Regions from separate parts of the Homo sapiens genome. Here region 1 is linked to region 2. The links come from fine-mapping of genetic effects on gene expression. Tissue or cell type: whole blood. Region 2 holds a variant in brackets; the other region holds the start of a gene. All regions are shown on one strand. Distances are between the middles of the regions.

Region 1 (5,473 bases), 26 kb before region 2:
ATCAGAGCAGGGAGAAATAAAAGTAAGAGTTTGGACAGATGTTAGGCTGGTTAATAGGGGAATTCCAGAAGAAGGTTTGGGGAAAATTTAGAATAGGGAGGTGTGGGGTGGACAGGGGTTTTAGGAGACTCTGAAAGGTGAGGTGAAACATGGGGTGGGGTGGGGTAGAATGGAGCTAGGTACTCCAGGTGAAAATATAACAATCTGGTCAAAATGAGGAAATGCTGAAGAGTGGATATACTTCTAAGCACTGCATTTTCACTTTTTGATAATTTGGTTACACCATGAAGTAGTCTTACAAATAAATACCTTTAAATGGTTTTGCCCATTTAAAAATAATTCTTCAGGATCAGGCACAGTGGCTGAGGCCTATAATCCCAGCACTTTGGGAGGCCAAGGTGGGCAGATCACTTGAGGTCAGGAGTTCGAGACCAGCCTGGCCAACATGGTGAAACCCCATCTCTACTAAAAATACAAAAATTAGCCGGGTGTAGTGGTGAGCACCTGTAATCCCAGCTAATCAGGAGGCTAAGGCAGGAGAATCACTGGAACCCAGGAGGCAGAGGTTGCAGTGAGCCAAGACTGTGCCACTGCACTCGGGCCTGGGCCACAGAGCTAGACTCTGTCTCAAAAAAAAAATTGTTCATATTTTCTTTCTAAAATGCGGAAACAAAATCTACAGTATGGAAGCAATTGAATAAATTTTGGTATGTCATAAAATAAAATACATGTAATTGTGTATGAAACATAGACGGGTGGTATATTAGATGGGAGAAAAAAGCAGGTTACTAAAAAGTGAACTTTTGTGATGTATCTTTTTTAAGTATAAGCATGTTGTAACATATATATATATATATATATATATATATATGAATGGATTCTGATCAAAATACACCAAAATGTTAACAGTGATTGTCCCTAGCCACTTATGCTGCTGGCCTGTCTTGTCTTCTTTTTATTTCTTCGAGACGGGGTCTCACTCTGTCCCCCAGGTTGGAGAGTAGTGGCACAATCTCAGCTCACTGCAACCTCCACATCCCAGGCTCAAGTGATCCTCCCACCTCAGCCTCCTGAGTAACTGGGACCACAGGTGAGCCACCAAGCCCGGCTAATTTTTTGTATTTTTGGTAGAGATGGGGTTTCACCCTGTTGCCCAGGCTGGTCTCGAACTCCTGAGCTCAGGTGATCCAACTGCCTCAGCGTTTCAAAGTGAAGTGGTGGGAATACAAGCGTGAGCCACCATGCCTGTCCTCATTTTTCTATAAGTGTACACTACTTTTATAATTGGGTCAAAAAAGACAACTGTAGAAGGATAAAAAATATTGAAGGACTAGTTTTTCTAATGCATTTTCAGCCTATTTGGAACTGGAGTGTTGTGAATGTTTTCATATTTACAAACTAGTATGAACAATCCAACTTCTCAATCTCTCATTTACATTTTTCTGACCTCTATGCATAGCCTAGGTGTGAGGTGATGGAAAAAGCTGGTTTAGAGATCAAGATGCTCAAACACAAAAGTCCCCCAAATCCTGAGAGTTTTTTGTTTTTTTAAAAAAATCCTTAAAACATTTAAAGACGCATAAAACTCTTCACCCACTCAGTGGTGCAAAAAATTTACCAATACTAGAAGGGGAGGAGGCTGGCAACGACTGGAAATATTCCCTTTCAAGTAATAAATAATGGTTATTTTGAACCAAATTGCTTTCCACCTCAAGTCCTCCATGGATGGGAGCCTGGAGGATGCAGTGATGGGGGTTATGGAATGGAAAGGAGCGTGGGTAATTGGGTTTGTGAGGATTGGGGCCAGGCAGAGGGAACTGGGGGCTTTTCCAGGACCACTGGGGAACACAGAGGCTGAGAAGGGGAGTGTGGGATGGGTTCGAGCTGGGGAGGACCTCGGCCTCGCCAGGCTCTAAGGAGAGTCACAGCTCACCACCTAGGGCGCTGGGACCACACGATGTCATGCCTGGGAGACTGAAGGGCTAGGACAGATTCTGAGAAAATGTGGACTGGAGATGGGGATTCCAGGTTCTCCCGGGAGTCCAGGCGAGGGAGTTCCGGCTTCAGGGAGTCCCAAGAGCTAGACTGGGAAGGGGCTGGTGCCCAGGACTATGAGAAATCCAGACTCCCCTGGGGTGTGAAAAAGGGCCGAGGTCCGGCTGAGGGAGAGCGAGTCTGAAAGAGTTCGGGCTCCCTTGCGGGTCCGAGAGTCTAACGAAGGCTCTGGGCACCCAGGCCGCACCTGAAGAGCACCAACGACTGCTCGGTCCGCGGCGCGGGAAGGAGATGTGCGGCTGAACCCCTACGCCGATTACTTAGCGGCGGCCCTATCGAGAGGGTGGTTCGAGCCCGAGGTGGCGCCGGTCCCGTAAATCGTGGAGGATCTCAGGTCCCCTGTGACCAAGGGCGTAGTCAGCTGTGTCATGGCGGCTTCCCTGTTCGAGAAACAGTTGGAAACTGGAGGCCGGTTGGGAGTCATGGTCGTTGGGCGCACGGAGGCCGGTTGGAAGCCATGGTCGTTGGGCGCCAGGAGGCCGGTTGAGAGCCGTGCTCGTTGGACGCGCGCAGACCTGGAGTTAGTCCCTGGGCGGAACCTGGAGCCCCGCGCGGCGCGTTGCCTGGGAGACGCATAAGGGGGCGGGGCCGGGGAGGGAGTGTCGCACATGCGCACAGAGCCCGGGCGGCTACGGAAGCGGTGAGACTGTCTCTCGGCTGCAGCCCTGGTGCGACCCGGCCCGTTGCCGTAGAGATGGGCAGGGCTGGATGGAGTGGGGTGCGGTGAGCTGAGCTGACCCTGCTTCGCCACGGGGACTGCAGTGACCCCGGCTTGCCGGCAGGGCGGGTAACAGGTTGAGCCAGGGTGGGGCTGCTCAGGGGCGTGGAGCCGAGGCCAGGATTTCTCTGAAGACCCGGCACAGGCTATTCCTTTCTGCGACGAGCCCATTGCTATGGAAACCAAAGCGTTAGGCCAGCGGGGATTGAGGCTGCGGGATCATGACGGGTCTCTCTCCCGAAGAACCTTGCCTAAGGCTTCCCCAAGCGGCTACTTCCTGAGCGAACCCGCCCACCCGCCTGAAGGAGAGAGGTAAAACCCTGGGGGTCCTGACACTAAGCAGGCGAAGAAGCCTATTCCAATGCCAGCTCCCCTAGGAAACCTACCCGGCCCACCCCTAGAAGTGATGCTTCGCTCTCGTTAACTCTTGGACTTTGTTCCATGTTTATAACTTAGTATTTCACGAACGCCCCGCGGTGTTTGTTCATTTTTCCCACACATAATGGACCATAAAGGTCGGCTTCTTTGCTTTATGACTCGTTCTGAACAAGTCCTTTTCCGCGCTGTGTCTCACTTTCCTCTTTTGTAAAATGGAAATATTAACTCTAGACGCCGGTCTGATTAGGTTGCTTTGAAGATCGAACCAGATGAGGGAAGCCAAATACTTCATAGGCTGTAAAGTGGTGAAGCTGAACTGCTACCGAGTTGCTATTTTTTTCTCCTCCTCCCTCTCAAGCTAAACGTTCTTTAGATCTTTTGTGATTTCTTCAGGTGGTCTTTGCGACTCCCTAGGCTCCGACCTGGAAGAAATCTTTTTTACACTTCCCTTTCACAGAGCCCTGCATTTTAACTTCCCTATCAGAAGCGAGAAAAATAGTTATCATTTTGAGAGGGCTTACTCTATGCCAAGCCCTGAGAAAACTCTTTACGTGGATTATCTCGTTTAATTTCACAACATCCTTTTAAGGTAGGTACTGTTATCCTATTTTCAAGCTCTGTCTGCCTGTAATTGCCTGTTTACTATCTGTTTCTCCCACTAGTCTTTGAGCTCCCTGAGAAAAGGGGCCATGCCTGTCTTGTACATTTCAGTATCTCCAACACCTAATACAGTGCCTGATAGAGATTGCTTTTTTTTTTTTTTTTTTTTTTTTTGAGATGGAGTCTCACGCTGTCTCCCAGGCTGGAGTGCAGTGGCACGATCTTGGCTCACTGCAGCCTCCGCCTCCCGGGTTCAAGCAATTCTCCCGTCTCAGCCTCCTGAGTAGCTGGGACTACAGGCCCATGCCACCACGCCTGGCTAATTTTTGTATTTTTAGTAGAGACGGGGGTTTCACCATGTTGGTCAGGCTGGTCTTGAACTCCTGACCTCAGGTGATCTGCCCGCCTCGGCCTTCCAAAGTGCTGGGATTATAGGCTTAAGCCACCGTGCCCAGCCCTGATAGATATTTCTTAACTAGCATGAAAATGACTCCTCGCATCACTACCCTCACCTGCAAGAGCATTGTCACTTCTGCAGACTTTTAGTGGCTATAATGAACAGCACATTCCTCTATTCCCGTTACCCACTGGGCACTGGTTTGGGGGGACATCAGTTCACTTCTCTATGGATTTTCTGATGACGAGGATCCAGAACATTCCTTAGCATTTAGACTTCCATCTGGGTTCAGGAGGCTTTTTCTTTGCCCTTCATATCACCTCTGTAGCAAGCCAGCCCTCTCTGTCCTTCCGGGAATGAGCCTGATGCATTTGAGTCTGGGGCATTGGCAGGTAGGATTTGCCTATACAACCTTTGGTCTTTCTCTTTAGTAGCCTCAGAACCACCCCCATCCCCACCCAGCCCCTCCCTGGAATTCTGGAGACACGCTGCCAGAGAACTCATTCTTTCCAGAAAACCTCTCAGAAGGCAGAGTCATAGCTGTTGGGAGTCATTTCTTCATTCAACAAATATTTATCAAGCACCTACTTGTGGGGACACAGCGCTTGGCACTAGTTGGTGATAGAGTGGGAGTGAAGACAGACACCATCATATCCCTAAAGGGCTCACAGTCTCTTGGGGAGACAGACATTAATCAAATAATCAGACAGATCGGAGCAAAACTACGTCTTCAGTAAGTGTTAGGAAGGAGAGAACATAGGGCTAAGAAAGCCTGGAGCAGAGTTGGTCAAACGTGAGGGAGGGGTGTGATCTAAGGAGATTTCCCTTAAAACAGTTACCTTTAAGTTGATATCTTAAGGCTCCTCAGACTTCTGCAGTCCTCTGCTGAATGGACCAGATCAGGATCTGATGGGTTCATAAGGAAAGAGACTGAGAGATCAGCAGGGGCAAAGGCCACTGGCTGGAGAGGACAGGTTGTCCCTAAGGAACTGTAAGTGGCTCGGTTCACCTGAGGCCCTTCAGAGCATGGAGAAGCCTAATAAGAGGCTGGAGAGACAGGCAGGAGCCAGGTCACAAATGGCCTTGACAGCCAAACTAAGTGGCTCCATCTTATCCTCACAGTGGATAGCCACTGAAATATATTAAGCAGGGAAACAAAACTTTGGCTCCTCATTTCTCGTGCCTGGTGAAGACTGCCACTTGGCCTTGAAAGGTGTGATCTAAATCCAAATGTCCCTATTTCAGCGGAATGTATAAAGATGTCCTGGTTTTTGCAGCTTTGTTTAAGACTGAGAAAGTGAGGGTCCGAGAGTCTAATGAATGCT
Region 2 (5,980 bases):
CACTTTCCAAAAAGCCACAGAGATGCTTACTCATAGGCTATGCTTAGAATAGGAAATTTTATTTCTCTCTCAATTTCATTCCGATGTTTTAGCTTTGTTCTCTAGGCAACAAACAGTCCCTCTGGCTCAAGCGTTTCTAGAAATGAACAGATAATCAGAATGCCTCCTGCTCGCAGGCTCGAAAGTTAACAGTGTTATGAGCTACCTGTGGCTTGCACATTAAACGTCCCATCACAAGAAGGCGGTTGGGTTTTCAGGTGAACTTCACCTTTGGTAAATTTCACCCTCTGCAAGGCAGCCAGGCAGGAAGGTCCTAAACTTCCCACCCATCTCCTCACACCTATTGTACATCCCACCCAATCCTCCACCTCCCCTCCCTGCAGCCCAGGGAAAGGGCAGCCATTCGCTGTCAGAGGCGGTGACTGGCTTCTACCTGGGGACCCCAAAATGTCAGCCTGTTTGTCCTGCCTCATTGCCACCTCTCCTTCTATTGGAACATGCCCAAGTTTCTGCCACATGCAGACAACAGCTGACCCTTCTCTAAACCCTGTCTGCTTGCTATTGGCTTGGCCCTTTTGCTCTTTCACGGGCTGTGTGATACTGTCTCCCTCTCTCCACGCCTCAGTCTCCTTAAGTCGTGTGGCTCGGGTAGCAACAGCCCCCTCACATGTGAGGTGCTGAACACAGGGCCTGATGCCCTGTGTGATGTCCTTGATGCCGGCTCACCCCGGCAGCTGGCATGATCCCCACACCCTGCTCCTGCTGGCTGACACCCTGTGCCCTGGCACGGCCTGTTTCCCATTCCCAGATCACCCTTTCCTCCTCCTTCAGTATGAAGAGCTGGGCATGGTGTGGGCACCTAGGGAGGCCCCAACAAATGTTTGCTCTCATGGTTACATTATTGTCATCATCATTGCATGTCTCTTCCCCTAGATAGCCTTCTCAGCGCTCCCCAGGAAGAAGCAACCGCTCCCCAACACGTGTGACCACTTTGACTCTAGAACTTCTTTTCTGCCATCATGATCTCTATATCTGAGTGCATCTCCCCCATCAGCCTGAGAGCTCAGAGGGGTTGAGTCCGCCTGCTCTGTGATGCGGACGGGCGGGGGAGTCCAGCTGAGAGCAAGCTCAGCAGGCTGGCGCCCCACTTCCCACCCTTTCTGTGGGTAGGAGGATGGCATAACCCCTCTCCTTGTGCAGGCTCCCTGGGCCTACAACTGGCCCAAGAAGGAGGGAAGTCGCTGGCCCTGCCAACAGCTGCCTGGGCTCTCCTCTTTCTGGATACTTTTTTTTTTTTTTTTTTGAGACGGAGTCTCACTCTGTCGCCCAGGCTGGAGTGTAGTAGCGCTATCTGGGCTCACTGCAAGCTCCGCCTCCCGGGTTCACGCCATTCTCCTGCCTCAGCCTCCCGACTAGCTGGGACTACAGGTGCCCACCACCACACCTGGCTATTTTTTTGTATTTTTTAGTAGAGACGGGGTTTCACTGTGTTAGCCAGGATGGTCTCAATCTCCTGACCTCATGATCCACCCACCTTGGCCTCCCAAAGTGCTGGGATTACAGGTGTGAACCACCGTGCCTGGCCTTTTTTTTTTTTTTTTTTGAGATGTTGCCCAGGCTAGAGTGCAATGGTGTGATATCTCGGCTCACTGCAACCTCCGCCTCCCTGGTTCAAGAGATTCTCCTACCTCAGCCTCCCGAGTAGCTGGGATGACAGGCATGCACCAGCATGCCCAGCTAATTTTTTTTGTATTTTTAGTAGAGACGGGGATTCACCATGCTGGCCAGGCTGGTCTCGAACTCCTGACCTCAAGTGAGCTGCCTGCCTTGGCTTCCCAAAGTGCTGGGATTACAGGCGTGAGCCACCATGCCCAGCCTTCTTTCTGGATACTTGCCCTCTGCTCCCACAAACTCTGCTCTCAGGAATGGAGCTGGCATCAGCCACGTACACTCACGTCTGAATCTGGCCCTGGTGCCTCTCCTGGAGCCTCCTGCAGTAGAAACCTTTTGTTCAAAACCTATCTCAGGCTGGGTGTGGTGGCTCATGCCCGTAATCCCAGCACTTTAGGCCGAGGTGGGTAAATCACTTGAGTCTAGGAGTTGGAGACCAGCCTGGGCAACATGATGAAACCCCATTTCTACAAAAAATACAAAAATTAGCTGGGCATGGAGGCACGCCTATAGTCCTAGCTACTCGGGAGGCTGAGGTGGGAGGATTGCCCGAGCCTGGGAAATTGAGGCCGCAGTGAGCCACTGCACTCCAGCCTGGATGACAGAGCAAGACCCTCTCATAAACAAACAAACAAACAAGCAAAAAAAGCCTATCTCAGGCCCTGGCTCAAGTCTGTTCCTCCCCATCTCTGCAGGGCTCCTATCTCTGTTAGTGGGGCCTCTAGCCCCCTAAACTCCCTCCTGAATCAGGCAGCCCAACCAGTCTATGAGATCAGCTCGCCTGTCAGAGCCATCAGTAAATCTGTCGGCATGTTGGCTCACACCTGTAATTCCAGCACTTTGGGAGGCCCGGAGGGAAGATCACTTGAGGCCAGGGGTTTGAGACCAGCCTGGGCAACATAGTGAGCCTGTTTCTAAAAAAAAAAAAAAAAAAAAAAAAAAATTAAAAATTAGCCAGGACGGTGGCATGAGCCTGTAGTCCCAGCTACTCAGGAGGCTGAGGCACAAGAATTGCTTGAAACCAGGAGGCAGAGGTTGCAATGAGCTGAGATTGCACTGCTGCATTCCAGCCTGGGCGACAGAGAGAGATTGTCTCAAAAAAAAAAATAATAAAATAAAATTTAAAAATTATAATTTACAAATTATGTATCCTCTGCAAGGCCCCAGGGCTAGGTTCCAGGAACATAGAATTGCCCCAAATCTGTCTGGCAGGCAGCAGACAGGTAACCAGGTGGTGATCATACATGGCATTTGGAACCATGATAGGGGGAGCAGAGGATACCGCAGGAGCCCAGAGCAAGGACTCAACCTCCCAGGGGTCAGGAGTTAAGACTAGGGAGGGAGGGAAGGAGGGAGCTGGCAGGAGTCAAGATGCAGCCCGATGCCAGGCACATGCCACTCCATGCCCAAGTGCCTGAGGCCTGGCCGGCCATTGCCCCTCCTGCAGGCTGGGGCTGCCTGGGTCCCAGTGTGAGAAGCACTGACT[C/G]TTTCTCAGCAGGGGCAGCATGGGCCTTGAGGTTAGGACCTTCACAGCCCTGTGGCCTGCACAGGGGTGCCCACAGGTCAGGTTTCCCAGTGCAGACTCATGCCCAGAGCTCATGCCTGTGCTCAGCCTCTAGCTCTCATGTAACCTGAGGGCAAAAAATAGAACTGGGTTTTGACCCTGCCTTGGAGCCAGGGAGGATAGAGATAGGGCCTCTGTGTCAGCTCTGAATACGCCAGGGCAGGGCTGAACTCTGACTTCAATCTTCCCTGGCTGTGGGCTGTCATCAATCCCAGCCCAGCACTCTTGGTGTGCCCACTTCCTTCTCCCAGGCCTGGGTCACAGGATCTCAGGGCGAAGGGAGAGCAAGAGGCCCCTTGGACTCCATCAACTCCAACTCTCCTCCACTGACAGATGAGGAAACTGAGGCCCAGATAAAATCCCAATATGCCCAAGGTTGCCCAGCAAATATGAGCAAAGGTATGGCTGGAACCCAGGCCTCCCCACCCTGAGTGGGCACCCTGGCCTCCCCTATGTCTCCTTGGGTTGAGGCAGAGAGAGGATAGAGGCTGCGACTCAGATGCCCCTCAGTAGGAAAGGCAGGAAGCCAGCCTTCGCCCTCAGGCAGAATGATCTAGTGGGTCTGGGCCTGGAGCCTCGGCCCTAAACTGCCCAGAGCCCTGCTGCCCTCTTTCATCAGAGCCAGCATCTGGAGTCACATAGACCATGCTTCACATCATTAGGGACCCCGTGACCTCTGTGCAAATCATGAACTTCTTTCTTTCTTTCTTCTTTTTTTTTTTTTTTTTGAGATGGAGTCTAGCTCTGTCCCTAGGCTGGAGTGCAGTGGCGTGATCTCGGCTCACTGCAACCTCTGCCTCCTGGGTTCAAGTGATTCTCCTGCCTCAGGTTCCCGAGTAGGGGGGATTACAGGCAGGCGCCACCACGCCCAGCTAATTTTTGTAATTTTAGTAGACAGGGTTTCACCACGTTGGCCAGGATGGTCTTGATCTCCTGACCTCGTGATCCTCCCACCTCTGTTGCGGGAAGTCAGGGACCCCAAACGGAGGGACCAGCTGAAGCCATTGCAGAAGAACGTGGATTGTGAAGATTTCATGGACATTTATTAGTTTCCCAAATTAATACTTTTGTAATTTCTTACGCCTGTCTTTACTGCAATCTCTGAACATAAATTGTGAAGATTTCATGGACACTTATCACTTCTCCAACCAATACCCTTGTGATTTCCTATGCCTATCTTTAATCTCTTAATCCCATCATCTTCGTAAGCTGAGGAGGCTGTATGTCGCCTCAGGACCCTGTGATGATTGCGTTAACTGCACAAATTGTAGAGCATGTGTGTTTGAACAATATGAAATCTGGGCACCTTGAAAGAACAGGATAACAGCAATGTTCAGGGAACAAGAGAGATAATCTTAAACTCTGACTGCCGGTGAGCCGGGTGGAACAGAGCCATATTTCTCTTCTTTCAAAAGCAAATGGGAGAAATGTTGCTGAATTCTTTTTCTCAGCAAGGGACATCCTTGAGAAAGAGAATGCGTCCCTGAGGGTAGGCCTCTAAAATGGCTGCTTCTGGGGGGCGGCCATCTTTTATGGTCGAAGCTGTAGGGATGAAATAAGCCCCAGTCTCCCATAGCGCTCCCAGGCTTATTAGGACGAGGAAATTCCCGCCTAATAAATTTTGGTCAGACTGGTTGTCTGCTCTCAAACCCTGTCTCTTGATAAGATGTTATCAATGACAATGCGTGCCCGAAACTTCATTAGCAATTTTAATTTCACCCCGGTCCTATGGTCCTGTGATCTGGCCCTGCCTCCATTTGCCTTGTGATATTCTATTACCTTGTGAAGCACGTGGTCTCTGTGACCCACATCCTATTGGTACACTCCCTCCCCTTTTGAAAATCACTAATCAAAACTTGCTGGTTTTATGGCTCAGGGGGCATCACGGAACCTGCCGACATATGATGTCTCCCCCGGACACCCAGCTTTAAAATTTCTCCCTTTTGTACTCTGTCCCTTTATTTCTCAGACCAGCTGACACTTAGGTAATACAGAAAAGAACCTACGTGAAATATCAGGGGTGAATTTCGCCCGATATCTGGCTGAATTTCCCCCAATACACCTCAGCCTCCCAAAGTGCTGGGATTACAGGTGTGAGCCACTGCGCTGGGCTGAACTTCTTTCTTTTTCTTGAGACAGAGTCTCATTCTGTCGCCCAGGCTGGAGTGCAGTGGTGTAATCTCAGCTCACTGCAACCTCCTTCTCCCGGGTTCAAGGAATTCTTATGCCTCAGCCTCCCCAGTAGCTGGGATTACAGGTGCATGCCACCTGGCCCGGCTAATTTTGAGACAGAGTTTCACTCTTGTTACCCAGGCTGGAGTGCAATAGCGTGATCTCAGCTCACTGCAACCTCCGCCTCCCAGGTTCAAGCGATTCTCTCACCTCAGCCTCCTGAGTAGCTGGGATTACAGGCGCCCACCATCACGCTCAGCTAATTTTTGTATTTTCAGTAGAGACAGGGTTTCCCCATGTTGGCCAGGCTGGTCTCGAACTCCTGACCTCAGGTGATCCACTTGCCTCGGCCTCCCAAAGTGCTGGGATTACAGCTGTGAGCCACTGCGCCTGGCCCAATTTTTTTTTTTTTTTTTTTTTTTTTGAGATGGAGTCTCACTCTGTCGCCTTGGCTGGAGTGCAGTGGGGCGATCTTGGCTCACTGCAACCTCTGCCACCCGGGTTCAAGCTATTCTCCTGCCTCAGCCTCCCGAGTAGCTGGGATTACAGACACCTGCCATGGCGCCCGGTTAA

What was found. PIP is the estimated chance that this variant, and not a neighbour inherited with it, causes the effect.
Region 1: it holds the start of DUSP18, and the variant in region 2 is fine-mapped to the expression of DUSP18 in whole blood (TOPMed, PIP above 0.99).

Annotation. Positions count from the first base shown.
Region 1 is chr22:30,665,074-30,670,546 of GRCh38, reverse strand. It overlaps DUSP18 (dual specificity phosphatase 18), which reads left to right and starts at 2,672. Exons shown (of 2, transcript NM_152511.5): 1 at 2,672-3,085. It also overlaps a transcript of SLC35E4 not described here. RefSeq lists an enhancer at 2,185-2,574.
Region 2 is chr22:30,638,353-30,644,332 of GRCh38, reverse strand. All of the region lies in intron 1 of SLC35E4 (solute carrier family 35 member E4), which reads right to left. Among named protein-coding and RNA genes, the nearest start is that of SLC35E4, 5.6 kb to the right of the region's middle. The variant C/G (reference allele first, on the strand shown) is at 3,158.